Regions from separate parts of the Homo sapiens genome. Here region 2 is linked to region 1. Evidence: fine-mapped expression QTL. A gene starts in region 1. The other region holds a variant in brackets. All regions are shown on one strand. Distances are from middle to middle.

Region 1 (2,928 bases):
CATAATTAAAAATACAAGTATAATTCTGTTAATTAGGCATAGAAATTTATAATCTCCACGTCTTACAATTGTCCAGTGTTTATTCATGTACCTAAATTAAACTAAAATAATTTCAATCCAGGCAAACCACCCTGAAAGATTTTTTTCTTAAGATGTTTATATCTAAACCCATGCTCAGATCAGCAAAAACATTTAGAAAGGAAAATATTCTATTAAATTTTTTAAAAACATTTTATTGGGGGATCGTTAAATATAAATAATCCATTTTAAATAATATAAACACGTAGCAGAAGTACATAAAACATACTTTCATTTTCTAAAACATAGAGAACAGTAACTTCTTCGCCTCCAAAAGAACAGACCATTTAATACCATTTAAAAAAATCTTTTGGCATTCCTATTGCCCTTCCCATAACTAAATGAATCAGTGACACGTGTATATATATACATATATTGGAGATGGAGTTTCGTTCTTGTTGCCCAGGCTGGAGTGCAATGGTGCAATCTTGGCTCACTGCAACCTCTGCCTCCCGGGTTCAAGTGATTCTCCTGCCTCAGCCTCCCAAACAGCTGGGATTACGGGCGCCCAGCTAATTTTTTCTACATGTTGGTCAGGCTGGTCTCGAACTCCTGACCTCAGGTGATCCTCCCACCTCGGCCTCCCAAAGTGCCGGAATTAGAGGCGTGAGCCACCACACCCAGCCCTGATGTATATATTTGAATCTGCTGTTTATTCATATGTTGAATAAACATTCACAGTTGGGATTACTGGCATACATCTTCCACAATTATAACATTATTTTAGCTAGTGAATAATAAAACTAATTTGATTTTGGTTAACTTCTTTTCAATACAGATGGTTTAAAAATAAGACAAAGCCTGTCTTTTTCTATTGTGATCTTAAAAATATCTTTCTAACATGCTTTTTAAAAAAAATACATAAGTATGCTACCACTGCCTTGTAGTAAACTTTAGAAAATGTTGAGATTCCAAAGGGCTGCCTACAAACCAAATGGCATCCTAGCTTTGGCAGGCTGATGCTTCATTTTGGCTGCTCTCGCCCCCTCTAGCGTTTGCAAAGCTCATCTGTCTGATTATCCAGTTACCTCACTGAACAAGATCTTGGCTAAGTCCTGCCCATCTATGACATCACCCCCTTCTTCAGCCACTGCGAGGTGAAGCTTTAAACTTCAGACTTGGAGGTGGGCTGTGTGCAGTAAACTGGAATGCTCTCCCTCGCTCACTCCTCAGTGTAGGAGTGATCTGAAGCAGGACAAGCTCAGCCTGCAGCTGCCGTGGGCTTTGTGTGGACTGGACGCAGAGCTTGGGAGACGGGGGAGGGCTATTACTCCAATTCACTGTCAATGGAATTACAGCTATAGCGGCAGTGTATATAGGATTGCTTTTTCTCGTCTTCCTGGTAAGTGTTTTCCATGTTTTTTCTTATGATTGTCCCAGAAAGTTTGCTTGGTTTTACTCTCTAGAAAGAAACGACTTGATACTATGAGAAATCCAAATAGGAACGTTTGCTCTGTCACCACAACAAGCAATATATGTGCGTGCAAGCCAGCAATGAAAAATTTCACTATCATGGCTGAATGTAAGAAGTTTCTTAGAACCTTCTTTCATTTATAAAAGATAGTAAGTGGCTATTTTCTGTCTTGAGTAATTGCTATGTGAAAAGAGCCTTATGGAAAACAGCAAGTTGGAAAGTTCAATGTTAAATATTAAAGAATACAAGGAGATTCTTCACAGATAGGAAAGCAACTTGGTGTGTACTGTACGTGTGGGATGATCACCAATTGCTGTTTTTACAACTGTGAAAGAAAATCAATAATCCCTCAGCCCATGAGTACGCAGTACATGAAAAGCATACATCTTGCTCACAGCTAGCCGAGCTACTCCTGGAGACTTATGTGCCTCTGTAAAGGATTAACAGCTACACCTAGATTTTAAAGCTTGCACTGCTATCGTGCCTGAGCTGCTTCAAGCATTTCAGGCTTGCAAATCTCAACTAGTAAATTGAACTCAGAGGAGGGGGAGACACTCTTCCAAACCATATTCCCTCTTCAATAGAACACCAAAATCCATTGCTTAGGCAAGTGAAGTATGTGACTAGCATAGTAAATGGCTAAGTCTACTCAGAAAAACTAACAAAGCTCACCCTGGAAGCTATGCCTGATGTATGCAGTGAGTTTGGGGTAGCAGGAAAGAAAAATAAATGAGTAGAGCCCTTATCAAGTGGGTTTTGCAGAGGATCCATTCTTTGCAACTTATAATAGGAAAATCTTATATTGGAAGAAATGCATTTATACTACAAAGCTTGAAAAAGTAGTTAAATGTATCTTCTCAAAAAATTTTGTTCACTGAATTAGGTCTGAAACAAAATGGTTGCATATAGGTAAAGAGTGCAACAGGCCCATCCATGTCTTCTCAACATCTGGGGGGTTTGTTTTTATTATTTTATTTAGAATTTAAAAGAAAAAAAATTGATTTTTTTTTCAATTTTTAGTCCAAAATCTCTAATGGTTTTAATAATAAGGCTATTTTAAACATTCTTAATAAATCTGTCTATTAATAAATCTGTCTAAAATGCTCATCTATGTTATTTTATTATCCAGAAACAACATAAATAAAGCCACTAGAAAAGTCCTTCAGCTGTAGCAATGCCTTTCATTTATCTCTGACTGCATAAAAATATCCTGACCAGCCTAAACATAAAGAATAAATTTGCTTATATTCAGGGAGAATCACTTATACCTGACCCAAAGTGACAGATGACTAATATTCATCTCTTCCGAAATGAGTAAAGAAAAATTAATCCTTTAAAAGTGCCACAATCAATAATATCAACATTACCAACTACTACAAATATTAATGATAATATGCCAGGTTTTACCATGGGAAAATTAAATCAGAGATATGCCC
Region 2 (2,928 bases), 360 kb before region 1:
CACATATATATACACACATATATATACATATATATACACATATATGTGTATATATATATACACACACACACATATGTAATGTTTAGTGAAAAAGCCAAGAAACAGTACAGCCCATACACCATGAGGCCATTTGTGTACAGTTAAAAACACAATACCATGTATATGGATTATGGCTATTTCCGTGCTTCTGGTAGAAATATAAGAACACAGTCTGGAAGGATTTACATTCTGCTCTTAAGAGTGGGTTGCTCTGGACAAGGAATGGAAAGAGGGGAAGGAAAGAATGAGACTGAAAAGAAGAATTTGTCAGAAATAACTGGTTATTTTATTTTAAAAACAAAAAGTAGAAATAAAGAGGCAAAATGTTAATATGTTTAAAATTCTTGGTGGGTAATGCATGAGTACTGTTATTTTTCTCAGTACTTTTCTGAGATTAAACATTTTAGGTAAAAAAAAATAAAGCTTTCTAAATAGCATCATCAGTTTTCATTAGAAAAAGGGGAAGAAATTCAAAAGAAACATATCAATAAGATGAATTTATATATAAGCAAATCTTCATGTTCATGTCTAGGGATGAGAGGAAATCTTATTTATAAGTGCAGAGCTATAGAGAGAGACTGCCTGAGTTTGAATCCTTGCTCTACCCTTACTAGCTATGAGATCTTAGGAAAGTTGTTTAACCTCTCTGTGCCTGATTTTCCTCATATATAATAGGAATAATAACAGTAACTATCACAGAGGGTTGTTTTGAGGATTAAAATTTGATAATATTGCAGAAGTATCTGAACAGTGCCTATCACACCAAGCTCAGGGACATACAGAAGTGATCACCATGTTTTGTTAGACTGTCTTAGACTTTCTATACAAGGGTATTTCTCCTTTTAGTGAAACTATCTTTAATACACTGATATGATAATTAATTATACGAAGGGAAAATTGCACGGACTCTCATCTGCAGCAGCAAGTCCTGGTTTATAACGTAAAAATCTAATGAATTGCAGCAGCAAAGTTTCCATTCATTCATTTAACTAATAAGTTAAAACCTCATTATAATGTCATTTACTGTGCAGTGCAATTCAGCAGAGGGATCTCTCTTGGGCCTCAGCTAGAAGGATTTAATTACTGGATTACCAAGAGGACTTTCAGTCAAGTGGCATCACCGATGAGGCAAACTTGAAGGACAGAGTTATCAAGAGAGTCCAGCATCCTTTTTTAGAAGTATAAATGTTCAAGGGTTGATGTGGAAAACATGCAAGGCTTTCAAAAGCTTTCAGTTTAGACTACTCAGGATAGAATGAAAAGGTGGGAGAAAGTGAATAAGCATGCAACTCACATATTTATAATCCCAGAATGTCACAGGTAGAGTATCTACAGAATATAGATAGCAGTGACATATGGAAATACAAAAGGCAGAAGAGAAACCTGAGTGCTCCATAACTAAAGAAATCACTTTTGAGT[C/G]ATTTCTGTTTTGCCCATTGCAAAGATAAAGCTAAAGACACTGATTCCCACTTATATTTTGTATATTTTTAAGCACCAATGTTTCAGCACATTTTCTGCTCATCTGTTAAGCTGCAGGCCTTATGACCACAGGAATTCCCTCATAGAAGGGAAATAAAAGAGATGAATTCGGGGGTCTCTATAGTCTTGGCATGCTACAGAACCCATTACTACAAACTGGAAAGCCCACTCTGAGGTCCAAGACAGTGGACTTCAGGCCATCAACAATAAGCCAAATCTCTCCAAGAAGGAGAGATTACTCTGGTGAGCCAGCTCACTCCTACAGCTCTAGCAGTGCCAGTTTCTGTTTTGAAAGCAAAATGCCTATGTTTGGTATGTAGATTATGACTGTGTCAGAGTCCAAATCAGCATGCATCATAAAGGCACCAACATTCACAGAGGGAAATGCATTTTACTACTGTAAGCAATTTAGTTCCCCTGTTTAAATGGATTTTATACAAAATGTGGATAGAATGGAATAAAATAAATGCACTCATCACGAATCTCTTTTTCCCTCAAAGTACTAAGCAAAGATTTTAGTTATCTGGCACATCTATTACACACACACACACACACACACACACACACACACACCACCATATGTCTTAACTGTCAAAGAACAAGCTTACTCATCTATGCCTAAGCATAACTGAATAGTTGAGTGATTGATATTCAGCTTCATAAGTGGAACTTTTTTTTACCTTTTGCTAGATACTCAATTATGATATAAAAGGTCCATAATGAAAATTTTTGAAACAGTTCTATAAAACTCAGCTTATAATATCATGAAATGTAATGCTACACGGCACGTTGCAAAATACAGCACCTAAGATCTTGCATGAAAAGAAGAAGTGAAAAATGAGTTTTCCCCAGACTATGGTCTATAGGTATATATTACACACAGAGACACACACACAAAATATGGTTAAAGTTCATCTCTCAAAGAATATTCATACTGCTCCTTTAATATAAGGAGAAGTTAAACTTTAAACTTCTAGATTTAAAATTTAAACTTTAAACTTCTAGATTTAAACTTTAAATTTCTAGATTTAAACTTTAAACTTCTAGATTTAAACTTTAAACTTTAAACTTCTAGATTTAAACTTTAAACTTCTAGATTTAAACTTTAAACTTTAAACTTCTAGATTTAAAAAGTTTAAACTTTAAACTTCTAGATTTAAAAAGTTTAAACTTTAAACTTCTAGATTTAAAAAGTTTAAACTTTAAACTTCTGGATTTAAAAAGTTTAAACTTTAAACTTCTAGATTTAAAAAGTTTAAACTTTAAACTTCTAGATTTAAAAAGTTTAAACTTTAAACTTCTAGATTTAAAAAGTTTAAACTTTAAACTTCTAGATTTAAAGTTCTGTGATAAAAGTTGATGCTTGAGGAAAAGAAATTAGTTTTCACATAGGTATTAAACTACATATTA

Which allele goes with the higher level. Alleles are on the strand shown, and positions count from the first base shown. SD is a standard deviation of normalised expression in the study named.
For the expression in liver of the gene that starts at base 1,212 in region 1, C is the high allele of the variant in region 2 and G is the other (moderate effect, 0.50 SD a copy in GTEx).

Evidence for each region. PIP is the estimated chance that this variant, and not a neighbour inherited with it, causes the effect.
Region 2: its variant is the best candidate, but not a certain one, in a credible set for the expression of FLRT3 in liver (GTEx, PIP 0.52).

Annotation. Positions count from the first base shown.
Region 1 is chr20:14,335,896-14,338,823 of GRCh38, reverse strand. FLRT3 (fibronectin leucine rich transmembrane protein 3) reads left to right here and starts at 1,212. Exons shown (of 3, transcript NM_198391.3): 1 at 1,212-1,420. All of the region lies in intron 3 of MACROD2 (mono-ADP ribosylhydrolase 2), which reads right to left.
Region 2 is chr20:14,699,686-14,702,613 of GRCh38, reverse strand. All of the region lies in intron 5 of MACROD2 (mono-ADP ribosylhydrolase 2), which reads right to left. Among named protein-coding and RNA genes, the nearest start is that of MACROD2-IT1, 150 kb to the right of the region's middle. The variant C/G (reference allele first, on the strand shown) is at 1,459.